Regions from separate parts of the Homo sapiens genome. Here region 2 is linked to region 1. A link means that fine-mapping ties the variant in region 1 to the expression of a gene that starts in the linked region. Tissue or cell type: hypothalamus. Region 1 holds a variant in brackets; the other region holds the start of a gene. All regions are shown on one strand. Distances are between the middles of the regions.

What was found. PIP is the estimated chance that this variant, and not a neighbour inherited with it, causes the effect.
Region 2: DNPEP starts here. The variant in region 1 is fine-mapped to the expression of DNPEP in hypothalamus (GTEx, PIP 0.95).

What each region holds. Positions count from the first base shown.
Region 1 is chr2:219,668,035-219,676,137 of GRCh38, forward strand. No RefSeq gene overlaps it. Among named protein-coding and RNA genes, the nearest start is that of SLC4A3, 44 kb to the left of the region's middle. RefSeq lists an enhancer at 4,551-5,051. The variant G/A (reference allele first, on the strand shown) is at 3,226.
Region 2 is chr2:219,383,983-219,392,085 of GRCh38, forward strand. DNPEP (aspartyl aminopeptidase) reads right to left here and starts at 3,930. Exons shown (of 15, transcript NM_012100.4): 1 at 3,777-3,930; 2 at 3,088-3,181; 3 at 2,910-2,998; 4 at 2,683-2,796; 5 at 2,304-2,429; 6 at 1,986-2,116; 7 at 1,649-1,724; 8 at 1,442-1,549; 9 at 384-461. The coding sequence starts at 3,812. DNPEP-AS1 (DNPEP antisense RNA 1) reads left to right here and starts at 4,588. Exons shown (of 4, transcript NR_183823.1): 1 at 4,588-4,814; 2 at 4,905-5,066. RefSeq lists an enhancer at 2,611-3,457 and silencers at 3,722-3,961, 3,982-4,501, 4,582-4,731.

The DNA.
Region 1 (8,103 bases):
TTTCTTGTTTTTTTTTTGAGACGGAGTCTTGCTCTGTTGCCTGGGCTGGAGTGCAGTGTCGCAATCTCGGCTCACTGCAACCTGCGCCTCCCAGGTTCAAGCTATTCTCCTGCCTCAGCATCCTAAGTAGCTGGGACTACAGGCGCCCGCCACCACGCCCAGCTAATTTTTTGTATTTTTAGTAGAGATGGGGTTTCACCGTGTTAGCCAGGATGGTCTCGATCTCCTGACCTTGTGATCCACCCGCCTCGGCCTTCCAAAGCACTGGGGTTACAGGCGTGAGCTTCCGCGCCCGGCAAAGCATTTTTCGAATGAGGATACCTCTGGGCATTTTTATATTCAGGAAGAAGCTTCAGCAGGAAGCGTCCTCTGGCTTCCGCCCGGCTTCCTTTTGCTCTTCCATCTGTGCACGGCCACAGAGACGAGTCACTGGGTCAGTTGAGTGACTGCCCCATCCCATGGCCGTACGATCCCTGCCCCGTGATACTGCAACCCTCTGACTCTGGGATGGGGGTTCCCAGAAGAAACAGGCAGACTCTTAATCAGTGCATGGCATCTGGGGAGTCACACAACATCAGAGCAATTTAGATCATTTACACCAGTTGTACGCAACGGATGCAGTTTGGTTAAGCCTGAACCCACGACTGGCTTCCCTTCCCAGGCATCAGATACCTTCATGCCTCCTGAATGAGAAAGAAAGCAGGTCTGCCAAGTCTCAGGAAGGCAAAGCGAATGTCAGTAGCTATTTCTATGGAGGGAGGAGACCGGGTGAAATTAGATGAGAGCATAAAGACCGGAGAATGTGTTTTTAAGCACCATGGGCAAATAAATTGAAAAAGATGGAAATGTTAAATTCTGAAAATTTTAATCTGAGTAATTACAGAGAAACAGGTTTGGGGCCCATGTAAGGAAGATTTGGGTAGCATAAGCCAGAAATTAATGGATCATATTGGTGGTTGAAATATAGGCCTTTAATGAGACCCCCAACTGGAGAATCTGTTTCTACAGTTCGGTATCTTGGACCTCCAATTTCAGCTCTCCAAGGGAAACCATCCTGGAGCGGTTTGTGCCAGCTCTGAACAAGTCCTCTCTGAGGACAGGTAGGCTGCGGTCTCCACCAGAATGTCCTTCTTTCCTCCAATGTCCCTATTTGCACCTTTGGTATTCCTGTTACATTGGTCCCTGGGTGAGAAACCTTTGGGGCCACAGTTCAATTTCCCTTCTCTTTCTTTTCTCCACCCAGACAGTTATCAAGTCCTCAAATATTTTCTGTGCGATTACTAATATTACTAAATATTTTCTGTTCTCCATTCACACTGCCCTCTTCTTCAACCAACCCTTCATTCAGTAAATATCAAGTGCCTGATATGTGTTGGAACTCGACTTGTGTCACCTCATGCCTGAATCCTTGATCTGGAGTCCCCATAGAGTTAAGCATAATCAGTGCTCAGGAAGTATTTACTGAATTGATATAAGGGTGTCTCAGTCTTCTCTGTCCTGCTGCAGATGTTTTTTGTTGGCTTAGTGGGGAGATCAAAGCTCTCATGAAACCCTAGTCTAGCGGGAATCCCTAGAACTTCCCTGAAATTGACATCCTCACGGGCCTCAGGCCTGGGGATCCACCCCTAGCCCTTCCCTGTCTTCCCAAAACATCCTAAACTGGGAGTATGAGAGGAGGGCTGGACAGCTGTGGACTTTAATTCATTGAGTGCCCAGATGGTCAAATAAATGAAGGTATGAGTCTGCAAGCAGCTGAGGAGTGGAGTTATCGGTTGCTCACCCAAGATGCTTTGTCTTACCTCTTTGATTTCCAAGCTAATCTATCCCCTGCTTTTTTTCTTTAATCAGTTGACTGTTCAGAGATTCTTTTTGCATTGGGAGGATCTAAGTACATTTATTACTAAAGGTAATTAACAAATCATATGGAAATATTTATGTATTCAAATTCAATCCCTGTGTGAAGAAATACCTTGATGTAAACAGGGTGCTTTATTCTAGATAGACATATTTGTTCCTTGTTCATTGACTACATAATCAGACAATAATGCTGTGGGTGCACATTTGAGTTAGGGGGAAGAAGCCTCTTAACTTTCCATGGTACAATTCTCAGTAGAATCCCCTCCTGGTAAATATTTTTATTCTGGAATAATATGCCATAGTGTTTATAGAAAGATTTCTTATTCAACAGTAAAATGGTTGTATTATTTTGATTGCATTCTTAGTCCTTGGTAATTGTCTCATTTTTCTTTCATAAAAGGAACTCAGACACCTAACACAATTGTACTTCAACACCAATTCAGCTCATTATGAAGAATTCTGCCGATAGAATTCTGTGAGTTGTGAATATCTTCTTTGCCCACATTTAGTTTTCTCAAATCGTCTGTAATTCATGGGTAGCACAGATGTTTCCAGCTGTTGGAAAATGAAGCTTGAAGTTCATGCCGATAAGGAGAAAAATATCTAATTCAAATTCCAAGAATTGTTTGACCTAAATCAATTTCAACTTGAGAAAACGGGGTCAACTCTCTGTACCCCACAAGAATCACCCTGGTGATTAAAAAGTAAATCTTGAAGAATTAAATTATGTTGCTGTTCAGCTTTCATATGCACACTTAGGAAAAAAAACAGAGCATCAAAGGCTGTTGGAATAACTCAATTTAGTGATGATGGCAGAGCGTTGCTGAAAAAGAGCTTTCTAGGCAGCGAGCTTTGCTCGGGGGAACTGCTGCAAACTTCAGTTGGTATCTGAGAGAAAAGGAGAGGTCTTTCAGATGAATAATTTTATGACTTTCAACCACACACATACAGCTTGAATATCAAATTATTTTAAATGAGAACTTCAAAAAGATCCACCTGTCAAATGAATAAAAAGCCCCAAACAGTTGCCTAACAGAACAAAGAGATTTGGATTCAAATGCCAAACAGAGATGGGACGAGGCGAGACTTTATTGTGCCGGCATCCCCAAGACACATGTATGAGTTAGAGTTCACCCTCCGATGGATGTGGGGGTCTCTTCATCCACTTGGGTTGCTATGACAAGATTCTTTGGGATGCGTAATCTATAAACAACAGAAATTTATTTTTCACAGTTCCGGAGGTTGAGAGATCTGAGATCAACAGAAGGGGTGAACAGCTTCCTTATACCTCTTTTATAAGGCCACTAATCCCACCCATGAGAGCTTAATCACCCCCTAAACAGGCCCCATGTCTTAACACATCACATC[G/A]TTGATTAGCTTTCAACCTATGAATTTTGCAAGGACACATTCAGGCTATAGTGGGGGGCATTGAGCCTCAGGATTTCAAAGATCATCAAATCCATCCCTCCTTGTTTCGAGAGTGAAAACACAGAGGCCAGAACACAGGTGTCCTGCCAGCTGCAACCCCACCCCACTCAGTGAGTCTAGACACGTTCCACGTTAGCGTTCTCTTGAGTAGCATGGAGAAAAATTAGTGATTGATAAAGTGCTCTGGTCTGTGGGACTAATGAAAGACAATGATTTATGTGTCACTCTTCCTAGATGATATTTGCATTTTAAAGGAGGGCTTCAATACCTTCGGCTCAAAGGAATGAGCTAAGGCAAGGATTTTCAGGCAACTGAATCAGAATGAGAGATTCCTCTCCTATCTTCCCCTCATATGTTTCATATCAAACAAACGAGTATGCATATATCAAGGTATCTACTGAGTGTTGTGGAGAAAGAACTGCCATGGATTGCAAGATTCTAATTCTTGTCCTGCTCTCATTTAAAACAACTTGAATATGATTCACCCATGTAATCCAAAACCACTTGTACCCCTAATGCTACTGAAATACAATTTTTAAAAAACCAATTTGATATTCAAGCAGGATGTATACACTTGAAAACCTTAAAATTATTCCTTTGAAAAGGTCTGCCACCCAAGGACCCACATGTGACCCGGGTATCTGATGTGGTTTTGCTGTGTCCGCACCCAAATCTCATCTCGAATTGTAATCCCCACTTGTCAGGGGGAGGTACTTGATCAGGGAGGTGATTGGATCATGGGGGCAGATTTTCCCCATGCTGTTCTCGTGATAGTGAGTAAGTTCTTATGAGATTTGATGGTTTAAAAGTGTGGCACTTCCCCGCTTGCTCTGTCTCTCCTGCCGCCTTGTGAAAAAGGTGCCTGCTTCCCCTTTGCCTTCCTCCATGATTGTAAGTTTTCTGGGGCCTCCCTAGCCAGGCGGAACTGTGAGTCAATTAAACCTCTTTTCTTTATAAATTACCCAGTTTCAGGTAGTTTTTTATAGCAGTGTGGGAATGGACTAATACAAAATCCAAGTTGATCTTCAGGAAGCTAGGCACAGGGATATTTGCCCTGGATTTCTTCTCTCTCAGGGAAGTTGTGAGCAAGATATAGGCTCATGAAAGTGCAAATGCTCTGTAAATTGGGATCTGAGATGGGGGTTCTGATTTTCATCAGCTGGGATGGAGTGCTGCTTTTGCCAACAGCAATGTCTCTGCCGCCCAGTGGCCACCTTGGCTGGCTTACTCAGTCTCCAGTCTGCCCCTAAATTTTGGCGGCCTGGAGTGCAACATGACCCCAGGGGAGGAGGGGTGCCTAAGGGATTCATGGTGGCCATGCAGGTCAGTTCCTCCCCACTAGCGCCCAGACCATGGGTCCTCTGGGAAAGCACCTGAAGCCCCCCCACTCTCACTGGCCCAAGAAAAATGACAGGTTTTGTCTTTCTGCCTCTCTTCCATGCTTCTCTTTTATCTGATTCCTCTGATCTCTATTCTCCAGTACTGTATGTCTATTCTCCCATTCTGCCTTATCATTTGCTGGTCTTTAAAAATTTATATAAGGTCCTCATTAGAATTTAAAAATGTTTCTGCTGGGTGTGGTGGCACACACCTGTAATCCCAGCACTTTGGGAGGCAGAGGTGGGTGAATTGCTTGAGCCCAGGAGTTCGAGACCAGCCTGGGCAACATGGCAAAACCAAAAAATACAAAAATTACCTGGGCATGGTGGCATGCACATATAGTATAGTCCTAGCTATGCAGGAGGCTGAGGTGGGAGGATCACTTGAGCCTGGGTAGTAAAGGCTGCAGTGAGCTGAGATCATGCCTCTGCATTCCAGCCTGGGCAATAAAGTAAGACCCTGTCTAGGAGAAAAAAAAAAATTAAACATTTTTTCTTCATGTAGATTCCGTACATTTCTTATTAGGTGTATCTGTATGTAGCCTTTTTGTTTGTTTTTACTTTTTTGAATTGCTACCTTTTTTTTTTGAGACAGTGTCTTGCTTTGTTGCCCAGGCTGGAGTGCAGTGGTGCGATCTTTGCTCACTGCATCCTCCACCTCCTGTGTTCAAGCGATTCTCGTGCCTCAGCTTTTCGAGTAGCTGGGATTACAGGTGTCTGCCACCACGCCCAGCTAATTTTTGTATTTTTAGTAGAGACAGGGTTTTGTCATGTTGGCCAGGCTGGTCTTGAACTCCTGACCTCAGGTGATCCGCCCACCTCAGCCTCCCAAAGTGCTGGGATTACAGGTGTGAGCCACAGCTCCCAGCTGATTGCGGCTTTTTAAATGGGATTTTTTTCTTTCATTTTATTTTCCAATCAGTTGTGTGTATGTAGCAAGCTATTGACTCTCATACATACATTTTTATAGCTAGCCATCTTATCGAATTATCCTATTGATTTTAACAGTTTTGTTTTTGTTTTTGTTTTAACTCTATTCTCTTTGGTTTTCCAGGTGTAGAGTCAAAACTAGTTGCAAATAATTATAATATTATCTTCTCTGTTATGTTTATGACTTTTATTCTCCCATGGCAATGGTGAGTTTCAGTGCTGAACATGGACATTTCCTGTCTTCTTGGGTTTTCCATTTGGTTTCTTCTGAGAATTCTGCTTCTCTGATTTTGTTTATGATTTGGGATATTGAACCTGAGTTCTGACCTGGGCTCTCACTGGTTCTGGGGAGTGAAGGTCAGGGGCTCAGAGGATCCTTAGAATTGGGGGTCCACAAGGCTGGTGGACTGTTTAATCCTCTCCTCCACGTCCACAACTCATATCCCTGTCCCATCGTCCCTCCTCCTTCCTGGTGCTTCCTCCAGCTTGACTTGTAGTCTTGGGAGCTTAGCAAGTTGATTTTAGGGAAAGGAAAACCAAGAAAGGAATGGTTACAAAACTCTAGGATTATTTCAATGGATGGATTTTATAATTAGAGAAATACACTGTGGATGTATTTCTAAGTATATTTTTGCATTAAAAAATACAACTCAAGCACTATTAGGTGCCATGAACAGAAATCAAACTCAAGCCAGCTTACATTTGGAAAAGGCAAATTCATTGACTCCTATCACCAAGCTGCAGGAAGCCTGGGTTGTTGCTTAACTTACTCTCATCCCTGCTTCCTTTGAGGACTGACTTAACTCTCAGGCTGGCCAGTACCCTAAAGTTGGTACCACGGTGTGGGCAGCTCTGGGGCTGCCATCTTAATTCTAAGCACCTGAATTGCTTATCTCATTTAATCCATGACATGAACCTATGAGGTGGGTCTTGTTATCCCCATTTTACAGATGAAGAAATGGAGCCTCAGTGAGGACCCTTCCCAAGTTCACAAAGCTGGTAAAGAACTTTGGGATCTGGAGTCAACTCTGATTGAAGAGCTTGGGCTTTTAGCCCTGTGCATTCTCCTGCCCCTCCTCTTGAGAGCAGAGAGAAAAGAGCTCTTCCCACTCACTCCAGTTGGGCTGGAATGGGCTCAGATTGGCCTGGTCGTTTGCCTATCCCTGGGCCAATTACTGATGTCAAAGGGATCAGTCTCTAGGATTAGCCCAGCCAGGGCTATAGAGAACCAAATGGAAGTAGAGCTCTTTCCCAAATGAAGCGGGGGTGTTGTTCTGGGAAGGCGAAATAATAAATGGCCCCTACAACTCCCAAGCCCAAACCCTCCACTCTAGGTAGACCAGCTATTTCAATGCTCTGGGAACAAGTCAGGCACATTCCTGCCTCCCCATCTTTGTGCCTGTCATTCCTTCTCTCCGAAATGCCCTTTTCTCCTACATCCTGGGTCGAATGTCCCTTCTTTTTGTGTGTCATACCTTTCTTTAGGTAGCATCAAGCTTCCTCCTTTCTCCTGAGTTTTGGGGAGTAGCTCTACAGATTTTTCCCACTATTTGATTGATGAAAAGGTAGTTTTATTTTCCAAAGGTAAAAAAGGAACAGCTTCCTCTACTGACTTTTCTATGATCTTGCTCTCCCCTTCGAACTTTCCAGCTGATGGAACTTTGCTGGGAAAAAAAAGCAGCTCAAGGTGCCTGTGCCAAGATATTAGCATATACTGCCCCAGGCAAAGACACCGCTGGCATGCTCCATCTGTTTTTGCCAAGTTCTGTTATGTAAGTGACAGCTGAGGGTATCTTTTAAGAAGCGTAGTGTTTGTGAATGATGTGTCTTAATAGAGGAACAATGAGACACACTGGCATGCACAGCGTGCTTTGTGGGAGCAGGTTTTTTGCTGGAGGGTAATTTGGAGGGGAAAAGATGTTCAGGAGGAATAGCAGTTAAGGTGGGGTGGTGGGTAATAGTGACAAGAGGGTTCTTTTCATTTGTGAAGGGCTGCCTGTGGGCTGAGCCTCCTCTGGGCATCTCTCTTGGGGCAGGGCAAACACACTCTTGAGAATCAACTGTGAGGAGTTTGCTGGAGTCCCCAGCACCTGCTCTTCTCCCACCCAAGTTAGAGACCAGTCCATGTTTAGCCCCCTGGGGACTCTAGATATTATCTCTAAGCTTGGAAGCAAGGAATTCACTTGGCCAGTGTGGTGGTTGTAAAACATAGCTCCTAGATTCTTTGGCACTTTTCCTATCTGGGATGGAGTCTATGACCTTTCCTCTTGATTCTGCTTTGGCCAATAGAGTATGGTGGAAGGGCTAAGACTGAAAAGGCCATGTGGCTTCCCCTTGGTGCTCTGATAGTGTTTGCTTTCTAGAGACCCCTTCTCAGAAAGCCTTCTCTCTAACTCAACTGCCATGTTGTGAAAAGCCGAATCCACGTGGAGAGGCCATGTATAGGTGTTCTGGCTAGTCCTTAGGCCATCCCAGCCCAGGCACTAGACCTGTGAGTGCAGAAGCCACC
Region 2 (8,103 bases), 280 kb before region 1:
AAGCCTGGGGAGTGGCGTAGGAAGCAGAAGGAGGTGGATGATACTGCCTTGTGGATGATAAAGCCTTTCCCTGAGGCAGAGGTTGTTAACTTCAGGAAAAGCAGCAGGAGCAAGGCTAGGACAAGAGACCATGGTGCCTGAAACAACTTCTCCTCCTTCTTCTTGCCTCAACACCCTGATAGTGCAAGGGCAGAGACCAAAGGTGGCGATGCTGAGGCTGCAACATTTAGGGCCCCCTCCTGGTCCATCCAGCACCAGCAGACTGAGCGGGTAGACAATGGCCCTCTCTCACAACCTGCTGGGGCTTTAGGCAGCTCCCCCGACCCCAAACATACCACCTCTGCTGGTGGTTATGTGCTGCCTGGGGCGCCCCGGCTCCTCACCTGCAGGGCACAGAAGCAGCTGTGCAGATTGTCCAGCCGAGGAGCAAAGATGAACTCATCATAGGCACCACCCAAGACCTAGAGAGGTAAGACAGTCAGCCCGACCTTCAACCCTCCACCCCCACTCACCTTTCTTTTGCTCCCAAGGGTCTCCTTGGTTTCTTGCGCAACCTCTCCCTGACCCCTGGCTTAGGGCACTATTTTGTTTTTTCTTTTTTTTGAGATGAAGGTTCGCTCTTGTCGCCCAGTCTGAAGTGCAATGGCTCGATCTCGGCTCACTGCAACTTCCGCCTCCCGGGTTCAAAGGATTCTCGTGCCTCAGCCTCCTGAGTAGCTGGGATTACAGGCATGCACCACCAGGCCCAGCTAATTTTTGTATTTTTATTAGAGACAGGGTTTCACCATGGTGGTCAGGCTAGTCTCGAACTCCTGACCTCATGTGATTCCCCCCGCCTCAGCCTCCCAAAGTGCTGGGATTCCTTGCTAGGCAGGACCAAGCAGAGATTGGAGAAGGGGGCTGGGTTGGTGCTGAGGAACAAAAGGGTGGAGGCCAATAGCTCTTGACCTCTTCCTGTGGGTCAAGAAAAGGAAGGGCTGAATTGTCATCAAAAAGGCCAAAGAAGTAAACAGAGGAAACCAGCCAAAAAACAGAAACTTAGTACGTGTTCAAGCAGGACACAGCATCCAAAGATTTAGCAATCTCTGACCATCAGCAACCGGGAGACAGAGAACAGATGGCCACATCCAGGCCTCTTTCCCTAAGCAGTTCAGTGTCAGTGTGGGTCAAAGCAGACAGGGCCCACCTGTAGAAGAAACTCTTTGGGAATCTGTAAAAAGGGCCAATTCCCAGATAGTCCTAGTGGGCAGGTCTGGGGTAGGGAACTTGTCTTTTTGAGAACCACCGCCCTAGAAGCAGTGGGGGATGTGTCTACTGGGAAAAACGGGGATGAGAGTTACTGAGGGCTTGGTGGAGGTGATGGGTGCTTCAGCAGGACGGGCTAGGGGTGGCCAGGATCCTGGAGGCCCTTCACCCACAGGTTCCTACAGCCAGTCCTCACCGCAGGCTGGGTGTCTGCAAGGCAGAGCTCCATCTCCACTATGTCCTTGGGGCTCAGCCCCAGATGGGCACAGAGCAGGGACATGAGGACCGAATGGTGCCGCTCATCCTGAAGAGCAGAAAGATGCTGGGAAGAGTCCATTCCTCCTCTCCTCCCCACTTCTCAGGGGACTCTGCCGCCCTCCCCATGATCAGGAGACTCTCTTACCACAGCATTGAGAGGCCCTGGCTCAGGAGTCCCCTTCTCCAGCTCCTCCTGGATGGCTGTGGCAAGAATGGGGACTCTGTGGGGAGACGTGGGTTGTGGGGGGATTGCGAGGAGGGCACAGCTGAGTGCGGCATCCATAAGTTCAGGTGCCTCCTGATGGGCAACTGCCTCTGCCCTTCAATTCCCAGCCCACTCCCCAAATCACAAGGCTGTGAGGACCCTTAGAAATTAACTGGGTCCCAAGAGTAAAATGTGACCTAATGGCTACCATTAGGTAATAATCACCTGGTACCATTCTCCATCCCTCCCAGCCACCGCAGCCCTGCCCCAGTCTCACAGATGCATCTCTGTGTTGGGCCCAAAGTTCTCGTTGATATTTCGCTGCAGATGGATGGCCAGGTGTGGGATGCGAAGAATGGGCCGCTCCACGTGCACCAGCTGCTGCTCCAGCCGACCTGAGGTAGGGCACTGCAGCCAGCCAGGCCAGGTCAGCCCAGGGTGCCTCCTACCCCAGTGGTCAGTCTTTACTTCACTCAGACTAAGCAGGGTGGTCCTCTGACCAGACTGCCCCCACCCCTCTTCCCCACGGGTACCCTGAGGAGTGTGGCAGTCAGTCTTCTGAGGAGGCTCCGCCATCCCCAACCTCGGTTCCCACCTTGACAATGACGCGTCCAGCCAGAGTCAGGTCACGGTCAAACCAGGTGCTCCAGATCCCACCACCATAGGTCTCCACACCGACTTGCTGGAAGCCCACCTGGCTGCGGCGAGACCGACGTTTCACCTGAGTGTAAAGATGGAGAAGTCAGAGAAGGCTTCATGACGATATGTGGAGATGAGACTTTGGCTACTCATAAGTAACAGACAGCGAATATTAGTGTCACATGAAAGGCTCAAGGTGTGAAGGAAGGGGCCAACAAGTTTACCTTCTCCCTTACTCCAGGGGATAGAGGCCCCAGTTTGTACCTCCTAGTTCTCTTTTGCCCTGTACTCCCTCTGACATCTCCTCCCACCCCAACACCGTCCGAGTTCCTTACCCGGAGGCAGGGGCTGTCCGTGTGGGCCCCGATGAGGCTGAAGCCATTGCCAGGAACGTACTGGCCCCCTACAGCAAAAGCTATGATGGTGGAGGAGTTCCTGGTCATGAAGTACTGAGGAGAAGGGGAGGAAAGACAGGGGTGTGAGTTGCATTACTCAGCTGGCACACAGGGCTTGGAGACCAGCCTAGGGACCTGCCTTTCCACCCCCACCCCACCCCCAGTACCTTGCTCTCGGGCTTAATATTCCATTTCTCAGTCTCCTTGAGTTCACTGAAGCCAGCCTGGAGAAGGCGGTTGCGGCATTCAGCCACAGCTGTGGGAAAAGCACCCTCTCACAGCGATGGAAGCTGGTGAAGGGCGCATCAGCCTCCACCCTCCTCCCTTGCCCTGGCCACCGCTTACCATGGAAAGGAGAGGGACTCCGGTTCACGAACTTGAGGAGTTCCTTAGCCGCAGTCTGCACCGCCTCTTTGCGGGCCTTACCGTTCATGGCCACCTAGGGGAGGGGGATGCTCAGACTTTTACAAGGTCTGGGACCCCTGACCTTTCACCCAGGTTCCGAGGATTCTCCCATCCCCACCCCCAGAAGTGACCACTCTAAGGCACAGACCTCTGCTTCCGCCCGTCCCCACCGAGAGACCCAAACCCAGGGCTGAAACTCCGTTGAAAGCTTCAGCCCGCCGGCCCAGGATCATGAGCCAGGCCCGCCCCTTAATCCGAACTTTAGCCCGACTCCCTAAGTCCCGCCCCCATGTCCCTGCCCAGCTAGGAAATCCTGTTCTGCTCCCAAACTCCGGGATCCCAAGCGGGCCCCATACTCTGAGGCGGCCTGCATCACGTGCGCGTACCCAGCCCGGAGCCAAAGCCCTGTACCCCAAGGAGCACCCTGACTCCTCTCTCGCACCCACCTAGTCTCTCGCAGGACTCCCCCTTCCAGTCCCGGGAAAGTCGTCAGGTCACCCTCCGCGGGGCTTTCGGTTTCGCTTTGGGTCAGGCGGCCCCACTGCAGCACCGCGCTAAGCTTGGGCCCCGGAGGGCGCCGGACCCGGTCTGGGATCGAAATTCAAGTGGGGCCGTCGGGAGCCACTTACCTGCATGGCCCCGCGCGTGGGGCTGTGTCCGCTCATCTGGCCTCCGGGCTCGGCCCGCCCCCACCGCGCCGCCTGCCCCGCCCCTCACTAGCTTTGCAGGTCCCCCGCGTGCCCCTTCAGGCCGCGCCGCACTCGTAGGCCTTCATCACGCTTCCCCGGCCGCGCCGCCCCGCCCCATGTTTGGCCTCCCCGCCCACCTCTCCCCGCCCCTCGGCATCCGCCCCGCCCACCTCGGTCAGCCCCGCCCCTCGGCGGGCTTACCCTGTCCGCTCCGCCCCTCGCTGGGCACCACCACCCGCCTTGCCCCGCCCTTGCCCCGCCCCTAGCTTGGCCGCACCGCCCGCCCCGCCCCGCCCCTCGCCAGGAAGCACCGCCCGCCCTGCCCCTCGCAGGGCTGCACCGCCCGCCCCGCCCCTCGTCAAGCTTCCTCGTCCGCCCCGCCTCTCGCCAGGCTGCACCGCCCTCCCCGCTTTGTCCCGCCCCTCACCAGGTTTCCCCCATCCGCTCCGGCCCTCGCTGTACCCCACTACTCGCCCTGCCCCCGCCCTTGCTCCGCCCCGCCCTTCGTCAGGCCTCCTTGCGCTCCCCGCCCCTTGTCAGGCCGTGCCGCCCACCCCGCCCCGCTCCTCGCCAGGCTGCTCCACCCGCCCCGCCGCTCGTCACGCTTCCTCGTCCGCCCCGCCCCTCGCTAGGCTGCACCGCCCGCCCCGCTTCCGCCCCATCCCTCTCCAGGCCGCGCCTCCGCCTCCGGCCCGCCCTCGTCTCCGCCCCTGCGGGGGCTGCTCGTTAGGCCCCGCCCTGCACCCCCGTCACCCACGCCGCGCGACCCGCAGCCGCCGCCAGGGCCCTCTGCTGCCGCGGAGGTGCTAGGACAGCCGCGGACGGCCCGCCTCCCCGTGCCCCGGGCCTCGAGGCCAATAAAAAGCTCGCCCCTCCAGCTCACCGGGTCCGACGGGTACGGTACAAAGTGCTGTCTCTCGCCACAGCCACCTTTGTGACAATAAAAGCAATAAGGCTAATGTCCATGGGGCGCTCACGGTGAGCTTTAGCTTTATGATAAAGATTGGCCTGTTACCTCGTTTAATCTTCACAACTGCCCCATCAACTATGTACTCTTACTGTCCCCAGTTTATGCATGAACAGAGAAAGCTGAGATACGGAGACTAGTGATCCGTCGAGGTAATAAACGGCACAGGTGGGGTTTGAACTCCATCAGTTTGATTGCAGAGGCCTGGAACAACCCTACAGCCTTCTCTCAGATCTTTTCTGGACCTTTTTCTATGCGCTTTGGTAAGTGTTATGTTACACGGGAGGTCCACAAGGGACACAGAAGTTGACTTGCCCAAGATCACATAGCTGTTTGGGTGGATCTGGGATTTGACTCTGATATCTGTGCCCTTTCCATTTGTTAAAAACAACAGAAAAACAAATTCCACATTATTGGCAGTTCCAGTATTCCCATGTCAGGAGTAGTGAGTAGCACGTTTAAACCCCATGCACCTTCCTAGCTGCAGGAACTGATCAGGACTCTTGGTGGCCTCTAGATCCAAAACAGGGCCCAGCTACCAGGGGTTCAAACAAAATTCCAGAGATCACAGGTTTATGGAGCAACCTGCCGTTTATATACCTGGGGTGGGGAGTGACAGGGTGGGATGGGGAGAGGCTGGAAAGGTCCTGCAGCCCTCACTTCAAACTAGTAGATATGGCAGGGGAGTTTTCAAGAATTCACCCACTAGGTGCTGGCTTAAATTCATGGCATTCCCTAACCGTTTGTTGAAATACCATTATGGGCCTGGCGCAGTGGCTCACGCCTGTAATCCCAGCACTTTGGGAGGCCGAGGCGGGTAGATCACTTGAGGTCAGGAGTTCGTGACCAGTCTGACCAACATGGTGAAACCCCGTCTCTACAAAAAATACAAAAATTAGCCGGGTGTAGTGGCACGTGCCTGTAATCCCAGCAGCTACTTGGGAGGCTGAGGCAAGAGAATCGCTTGAACCCGGGAGGTGGAGGTTGCAGTGAGCTGAGATCGTGCCACTGCACTCCAGCCTGGGCGACAGAGTGAGATTCTGTCTCAATAAATAAATAAATAAAATTATGTATAAAGCTCAATGCTGAGCAGGACATGGAGAGAGCATTCTTGTCCTCTACCTCCTGGGGAGGGGACACATTCAAGGAGGACAGTGAAAGGGCCGAAACAAGGCTACAATGTATAAGGGAAGGAGACAACCTGAATAAGGAACCACCTTTAATGTTCTTTCTGATCACAGAAAAGAGTACATGCTTGAGTAAGAGATTCAAACATCACCAAAATGCATAACTTAGAAAGTGAGCCGGGAGTGGTGGCTCACGCCTGTCATCCCAGCATTTTGGGAGGGAAATACAGAAGTGTTCCTATTCAAATCAGAAGTGAGACATTGATGAGCTATTACTGCTGCTAGACAATGTGGAGCTGTAGTCAGAGCCAGTACCACAAAACAAAATTAACAATTCTATATGTGCAAAAGTAAAATTGGTCATTATTTATAGATTATATGATTATCTAGAATCCCCAAGAAAATAAACGATCAAGCTATTATTAGAACTGGTAGGAAGGGTAGCCTAATTTAAAAAACACTGACTTTCTTGTACAATAATCACCTAGAAAATATAAAAGTAAAAAGGTTCTTATTGACCATTTTTGGTTTGGGTAAAAAAGAAAAAAGTAAAAGGGCTATATTTACAAGAGCAAGAAATATTGTTAAATTTCTAGTCATGAACATATGAGACACCTAATCTCACTTTAAACAGGAAAATGCAAGTTAAAAATGAGATAACAGTTGGGCGTGGTGGCTCATGCCTGTAATCCCAGCACTTTGGGAGGCAAAGGCGGGTGGATCACGAGGTCAGGAGTTTGAGACTAGCCTGGCTAAAAATACAAAAAATTAGCTGGACATGGTGGTGTGCACTTGTAATCCCAGCTACTCAGGAGACTGAGGCAGGAGAACTGCTTGAACCCGGGAGGCAGAGGTTGCAGTGAGCCGAGATCGTGCCATTGCACTCCAGCCCAGGCAACAAGTGCGAGACTCCAACTCAAAAAAAAAATTAATAAATAATAAAAATGAGATACTTTTTCTTTTTATTGAGCAGATTAACAAAAATGGAAAAGATGGGTAATATCAAGTGTTGGAGAAGGCTTGGGGTAATGCAAGCATTTTCTGGAGGCTAAAGCAACTCCATCTGGGAAGCTAATCTGCCATGTTGACTTTTCAACAACCTGTTCCAGGAATGACTCTAAGTTTTCTACTTTACCTACTATTACCATAAATCCTGCGCTTAGACAGATTCACATAGCATTCATGACTTTGCCTGAGGGGTCAACTTCAATTGTTTGACACATTGTTTCCCTATGGTATGTAAGCCCTGGGTTTGCAGGGTAATCCACCATTTCATCTCTGAAACTATGGCCTCTATTCATAAGTCCCTATGAAATGTTTCTTTCTGAGAGACTGTATATGTCAGCCTCTTTCGTCGGCTTTTCAGCTTCCCTGAACTTTGGGGGTATGTTTGCACAGACCTTTATACCCAAATTTCTGTGGTGTAAATGTTCCCCGTGGCCGATTTCAAGCTGTCGAGATGATGTCACTGAAGGGAGTTGGGAAGAGCTGTGCGGAAGCATGCCATTATGTAGATTTCCACCATGCAGACACAATGGATAGAAATAACATCAACAGCATAGATTTAAGAAGGCAGTAAAATGTTTGGAAAGGTGATGGATTTTTGGTTTTCATTATCTGTAATATAATTTATTTAATTGTAAGTGTATATAATTTAGTTTTTTTTAATGATTGCTGTGTTTAACAACAAGCTCACCAAATTCCTGGAAATTTGACAATCAGTTCTCATGAGCTTGTCCAAGTTGGCCCCAGCACACTATTCCACCCGTACTGTACATCTTTGCTACTAAATGTGTGATCTGTTGACCAGCAATGTCAATAACATCTGGGAGCTTTTTAGAAATGCAGAACCTCAGGGCTTACCCTAGAGTTATAGAATCAGCATCTGCATGTTAACAAGATTCCTAGATGATTTGAATGCTTGAGACACAGTATTTTAAAGTGCTGTGTAGCAGTTCATAAAAAAAAAAAAAAGGTCAGTCTTTAGGAATTGTTACAGAAAAGAATTCCAAATATACTGTTGAGTGAAAAAAAAAAGCAATTTCTAGAATGTAAGGTGAGGGCCTTTAGATAAAACTCACACAATGAGCTAAATTTATATTTCTAGATGTTATATAAATACATATGTAAATGGATAGAAACAGGTTTGGAAGGATAATGGTCACCTCTGGGT